Linked DNA regions of Homo sapiens: region 2 is linked to region 1. The links come from fine-mapping of genetic effects on gene expression. A gene starts in region 1. The other region holds a variant in brackets. All regions are shown on one strand. Distances are between the middles of the regions.

Evidence for each region. PIP is the estimated chance that this variant, and not a neighbour inherited with it, causes the effect.
Region 2: its variant is fine-mapped to the expression of CRTC3 in CD4 T cells (BLUEPRINT, PIP 0.95).

Annotation. Positions count from the first base shown.
Region 1 is chr15:90,528,675-90,531,577 of GRCh38, forward strand. It overlaps CRTC3 (CREB regulated transcription coactivator 3), which reads left to right and starts at 1,249. Exons shown (of 15, transcript NM_022769.5): 1 at 1,249-1,529. The coding sequence starts at 1,398. RefSeq lists silencers at 703-752, 853-1,602, 1,623-1,802 and an enhancer at 2,193-2,352.
Region 2 is chr15:90,682,157-90,685,059 of GRCh38, forward strand. The region is part of intron 2 of CRTC3-AS1 (CRTC3 antisense RNA 1); the gene reads right to left. Among named protein-coding and RNA genes, the nearest start is that of LINC01585, 23 kb to the left of the region's middle. RefSeq lists an enhancer at 901-1,401. The variant G/A (reference allele first, on the strand shown) is at 1,199.

The DNA.
Region 1 (2,903 bases):
TAATAAATCCCAAGTACATGCAGCAAAATGTATTGATGTCTGTTTAATCTTGATAGTGGGGGGCGTGGGTAGTATTAATATTATTTTCCGTACTCTTCCGTAGGCCTCTAATATTTCCCTCTTTACAGAACACTGACACACGCTCAGGGCTCCCCGGGACATCTTTGTGCACATCAACATTTATGCTGAGAGTAGCTTCTGGACTCCAAAGAGGAAACTCCCCGGGCACTGTGGCCCACGCCTGTTATCCCAGCACTTTGGGAGGCTGAGGTGGGCAGATCGCTTGAGCCCAGGCGTTCGAGACCAGCCTGGGCAAAATAGCGAGACCCACCCCCGCCCCCCATTGCTACAAAAACATTTACAAACTAGCCGGGCGTGGTGACCCCCGCCTGTGGTCCCAGCTGGTCGGGAGGCTGAGGTGGGAGGATCTTTTGAGCCCGGGAGGTCAAGGCCGCGGTGAGTCGAGATCGCACCACTACACTCCAGACCGGGCGACAGAGAAAGACATCCATTCACTCCCCCAAAAGAAGGGGAAATTCGCTGAGGCTGAGCGCTGGTTTCCCAAGGTGGGGCTGGCACCTGCTGAAGCTGCCACAGGAGTGGAGAGGCCGTAGGGAGACTTGGAAAGAACCTGGAAAGGGGGCCGGGGCTATGGAGCCAAGGCTGCAGCAGGGCTGGATGGTGTTTGTAGTTTGTGCAGAATAGGAGGCAGTTTTTAAAGCCGAGATACAGCTCTGGTTGACTGGAGCGGGGAGGGGTGGGTGTGAGAGGTCAGGAAACCAGCGGCTGGAGGCCGGGGGCCTGGAGCGGCAGGGCTGGCGGGCAGACGTTAGGCCCCAGGCAAAATGGGCGCACCCCCTGCGGGGGCCCGAGGTGACCTGCTCGAGGTCCGGTCGCCCAGGTTCCACCTGGAGAAGAAAATCTTCGTAATTTGGCTGGGGGAGGGGGGATGCGGGCACAGGCTGTGTTCTCCACGTCGCGTAGACGCAGAGGCCATCCCTGGGTCGGAGAGTCTCCGTGGAGTGGCACCCCAGCGTTCCCCGTACGCCGGGGCCACTTTGTCGGGCTGACGGGGGTCCCTCCAGGTGGCCGCCGGCGGCGGGTCCCGAGCCAGACCGGGAAGCGGGGAGCAGCCCTCAGCCCGCGAGCGTGGGGCCGGGGCAGACTGGAGGCCGGGCGGGCCCCGCCGAGGGTGGGGCGGGGCCGGGCGCACGGGGGCGGACCTCGGCGCGCTCCCGGCCGCTCGCTGGCTCCGGGGCCGCGGCGGCTCCTCTGCCGGGTCGCGCCGGACGACTGGCTTCGGGCGGCGGCCCCGGCGGCCTGTGGACGGACGGGTGGGCCGAGGTACAGGCCCCACGGCCGCCGTCTCCCGCTTCTGCCCGCGCAGAGTCCGCGCCATGGCCGCCTCGCCGGGCTCGGGCAGCGCCAACCCGCGGAAGTTCAGTGAGAAGATCGCGCTGCACACGCAGAGACAGGCCGAGGAGACGCGGGCCTTCGAGCAGCTCATGACCGACCTCACCCTGTCGCGGGTGAGGGCCCGGGCCGGCGCGGGCGGGGGCGGCCACGGCCGCGGGCGGGACCCGCGCGGCGGGTGAGAGGTTGCGGGGCCAAGGCGATGGCGGGGCCGGGCGGGGGCCGCGCCCGGGAACCGGCGGCTGGGAGGGGGACCGGAGCGGCCGCGGCCTCGGCGTTTCCCCGCCTGGCGACACCCGCTAGCCGTTCGCGATCCCGGGCTGAGGTGGGAGGGTCGCCCGGCCCCGTGTGCGGGAAGATGGGCAGGGGTGAAGCCCGTGGAGGCGGGCGGCCGTGCGAGGGCGGCCTGAGGGGGAGGAGGACGAGGAGCCCCGAGAGGAAATCGCAAACAGCTCGGAGGCCGGCCGGGTGGCGCGGCGCGGCTTCTGGTCGCTCCGAACATCCCCCACCATCGAGCCCTGCTGTTCTGCCGGCGTGGAAGGCCGCGGGCACCCCAGGGTCCCACGCGCTCGTGGGGGGAGCTCTGTGCACAAGTCCATCCAGGGCCCGGCCCTGGGGTGGCTCGGGTTGTTGGAACCACGACGGGATTCCGTGTCGAGTGTGAGGCTCTGCTCCTTTTACTCCTTGGAGGTGCTTTATCGGGTCCAGTTTACTTTGTTCGGCCCGGGATATTTAGTGAGAACTGACAAGCGTCGCTGGTGACTGGAGAGGGACCTGGAGGAATGAGTAAGGCGCGAGCCGGGACAAACACCTGGAGAGGTTAGGTAACCGCTGAGTGAGGCAGTGGAGGATGGAGAGCCAACCGGAGTGTCCGCGCAGGGTTGCAGAGAAGGGGGGTCAGCAGGAGTGGGGCTGGCCTTGAGGATCCTGAATGCTGACCTTGGAGGACCATCGGGAGGATGGGGGAGGATCTGCAGATTCTGGGGGACTGAGGCGGGGGAGACAGTTTGAAGGAGAGCTGAGAGCAGAGTTGCAAACCAGCTGAGTTGCAGACACATTATTTTTTGGCCAGCGCAGTGTTTGGGAAAAATTATTGAATCTGTTGCCAGAATTTTTAAATTGGAAGACTTCCACACAAAATCCAAATTTCCGTATTATTTATTTATTATTATTTATATATGTTAAAAATTGGGAGACCTGGTAACACTAATTCTGAATTCCTACATGACAGCTACCGACCTGCTGGAGCTGGGTGATGATGAAAGGGAGCTGAGCTGAGCTCCCTTTCAAATGGAGTAAGAACTCTAGTTTGCCACCGTCCACTCTCTGTCACAGTCCCCCAAGGGGAGATTAGGTGACAGTTGCCATTTATACTCATGATGGTGTTTTCTTTCAGTGAAGTTAAGGAAAAAGTGAAATATTTCCTGTACTTACATTTCTGTTCACATTGAGAAAAAATATATATATAGAGAGAAAGAAGCTGAAGATTT
Region 2 (2,903 bases), 150 kb after region 1:
CTGCTGAGGGGCCGGGGTCATGGACCCCAGTGTACACAGGCTCTACTAGGGGATCCTATCGAAGCCCCCTCCCCCGAATGGCCTCCAGGAATCTGTCCTGGCTCCACCTCTGGAACCTTCATTTTCTTACATCTTGCCTGTAGCCATCACCACACTTGGCAACCTACTGTGTGTCACCTAGCTCCCCTACTTATGGGATGACTACTTCAATTCTTCACTCTCTCAAACTTCCAAGGCCCTCCTATCCCCCCCTCACCTCTGGCCTCTGCCCACTAGAGGACCCCCACTAGTAATACCCCTTAGTTGTGACAATCAAAAATGTCTCCAGACGTTGCCAAACATCCCCTCAGGTGGAAAATCACCCTCAGTGAGAACCACTGATCTAGACCAACAGCCAGCCGCTCTCTCTCATGCTTGTGACCCACATCTGGAATGCACACATTTGACTGACCTTCATCTGTCTCTTGATGCAGCCCTTTTTCAAAGCCCAGCATGGCTGGGCATGGTGGCGCACGCCTGTAATCCCAGCACTTTTGGAGGCCAAGCCGGGAGGGTTGTTTGAGCTCAGAAGTTTGAGACCAGCCTAGGCAACATGGTGAAACCCCATCTCCACAAAAAATACAAAAATTAGCCGGGTGTGGTGGTATGCACAGGTGGTCCCAGCTACTCAGGAGGCTGAGATAGGAGGATTGCTTGAGCCTGGGAGTTCAAGAACAGCCTCGGCAATATGGCAAGACCTCATCTCTTAAAAAATAAAAAAAAAAAAAATTAAAAAAACTTGATCACATTTTTCTGGAGGGGAATTTAACAATATTTATCATAAGCTTTAAGTTAATAGTGTAATATAAAATAAGCTGAGCATGGTGGCAGGCACCTGTAATCCCAGCTACTCAGGAGTCTGAGGCAGGAGAACTGCTTGAACCCAGGAGGTGGAGGCTGCAGTGAGCTGTGATTACGCCACTGCACTCCAGCCTGGGCAATAGGGCAAGACTCCGTCTCAAAAAAGAAAAAAAAGAAAAGTTAATAGTGTAATATTATGAACTACTGATACATGAAACATAGGTGAATCCCAAAAACATAATGCTGAGGGAAGAGTACATACACCAGGCGGGTGGCTCACGCCTGTTATCCCAGCACTTTGGGAGGCCAAGGTGGGAGGATCGCTTGAGCCCAGGAGTTCTAGACCGGCCTGGGCAAC[G/A]CAGCAAGATGACCCATCTCAATTTTTTTTAATTAAAAATAATAATAACTAAAAAAACCCCAAAGCCCAGTGGACTGACAGGCAGACAACATACATACACACGCCCCTGTAGATTTCGAGGTGTGATTCGGACACCTCTGTGTCTCCCTGGTTCCAGTGTCCCCCTCAGTTGATCTGAGGAAAGCAGGACGCACTCACCCCTCCCCCATGGGTGTGGCTGGGGGCGGGCTCCACAGTACAAGCCTCTGCTAAAGAAATCTGCTTCCACCGGGCAGGTGGCTCACACCTGTAACGCCAGCACTCTGGGAGGCTGAGGCGGCTGGATCACCTGAGGTCAGGAGTTTGAGACCAGCCTGACCAACACGGTGAAACCCTGTCTCTACTAAAAATACAAAATTAGCCAGGCGTGGTGGCACATGCCTGTAATCCCAGCTACTCAGGAGGCTGAGGCAGAAGAATCGCTTGAATCCAAGAGGCAGATGTTGCAGTGAGCTGAGATCATGCCACTGCACTCCAGCCTGGGTGACAAGAGCAAAACTCTGTCTCAAAAATAAAATAATAATAAAAATAATAAAAAATTAAAAAAATAAAAAATAAACCTGCTTCCTAGTCTCTGGCTCCTCTCTCTCGGCCTGTCCAACCGCTTTATAAGTTGGATGTGGGTGGTCAATACAGTGACTCAGAACTACCAGTTCTCAGACATTTCCCTCCCAGCCCTGCATAGGTGGTCTAGCATCCCATGCTGGGATTGGGAGGGGCTGCCCTGCCTGTCTGGGGCCTCAGCCAAGCCTGAGGCAGAAGGAGCCTGCTAACTACCATCCAGGTGCTCATTCGAGGCCCCTCTTCTCCTCGCCTCAGGATTCTTTCCCATTCCTATTTACTCAACCTCTCCCTCCTAACTAGAACCTGCCCACTGACATTTAGACATATTTAAATCTCTCCTGAAATTAAAAAAACAAACAAAAAACTGCTTTGAAAACCCCAAATCTCCTTGCAGCTACCTCCTAATTCTCTCCTCCCTTTCAAAGCCAAACTTGTGAAAAAGCTGTCTGCATCCACAATCTCCCTTTCCTCACCTCCCACGCATTCCAGTCTGGCTTCCCCCCTCATCAGTCCCCAGAAGCATCTCTCCCTAAGATGGTCAGCGATGCTCAGACCGCCAGGCTGAGCCTGGAGAGCAGTAAGCTGGCCTGGCCCGGGCAGGACCTTGGCCATGGGAGCAGCAGTAGGGTACACAGTGGTTGGTGTTACCCAGGGTTGTCAATGTCAACTGCAGACGATAAACTAGAACTTCTGTGCAGTTCCAGAAAGAATATCTGGCCTTGAGTCCTGAGGCTATGCCAACACCTACTTACCTTCATTGATTCATTCATCCATTCAATAACTCTTTACTGAGCACACTTGGGCCAGACCCTGAGGTAGGCACCTGTTATAAACTTGGTCTCTACCCTCATGGAGCTAACTGCCTGGGCATTGGTCAGAGTCATGAAAATACACAAAGACGACCGAGATGCTTGATGGAGAAGTACAGAGTGTATTACTGTGGGATCAGATCTAGCCTGAAAGGTCAAGAAGAGATTTTCAGGCTGGGATCTGACCAATGAGTAGGAATTAGCTAGTCCGGGAGGAATGGGGAGAAAGAGATGATAGAAGACTGGGGGAAAGGTGTCTCTTGGGGACAAAGAAGCCAGGGATTCCAGAATTG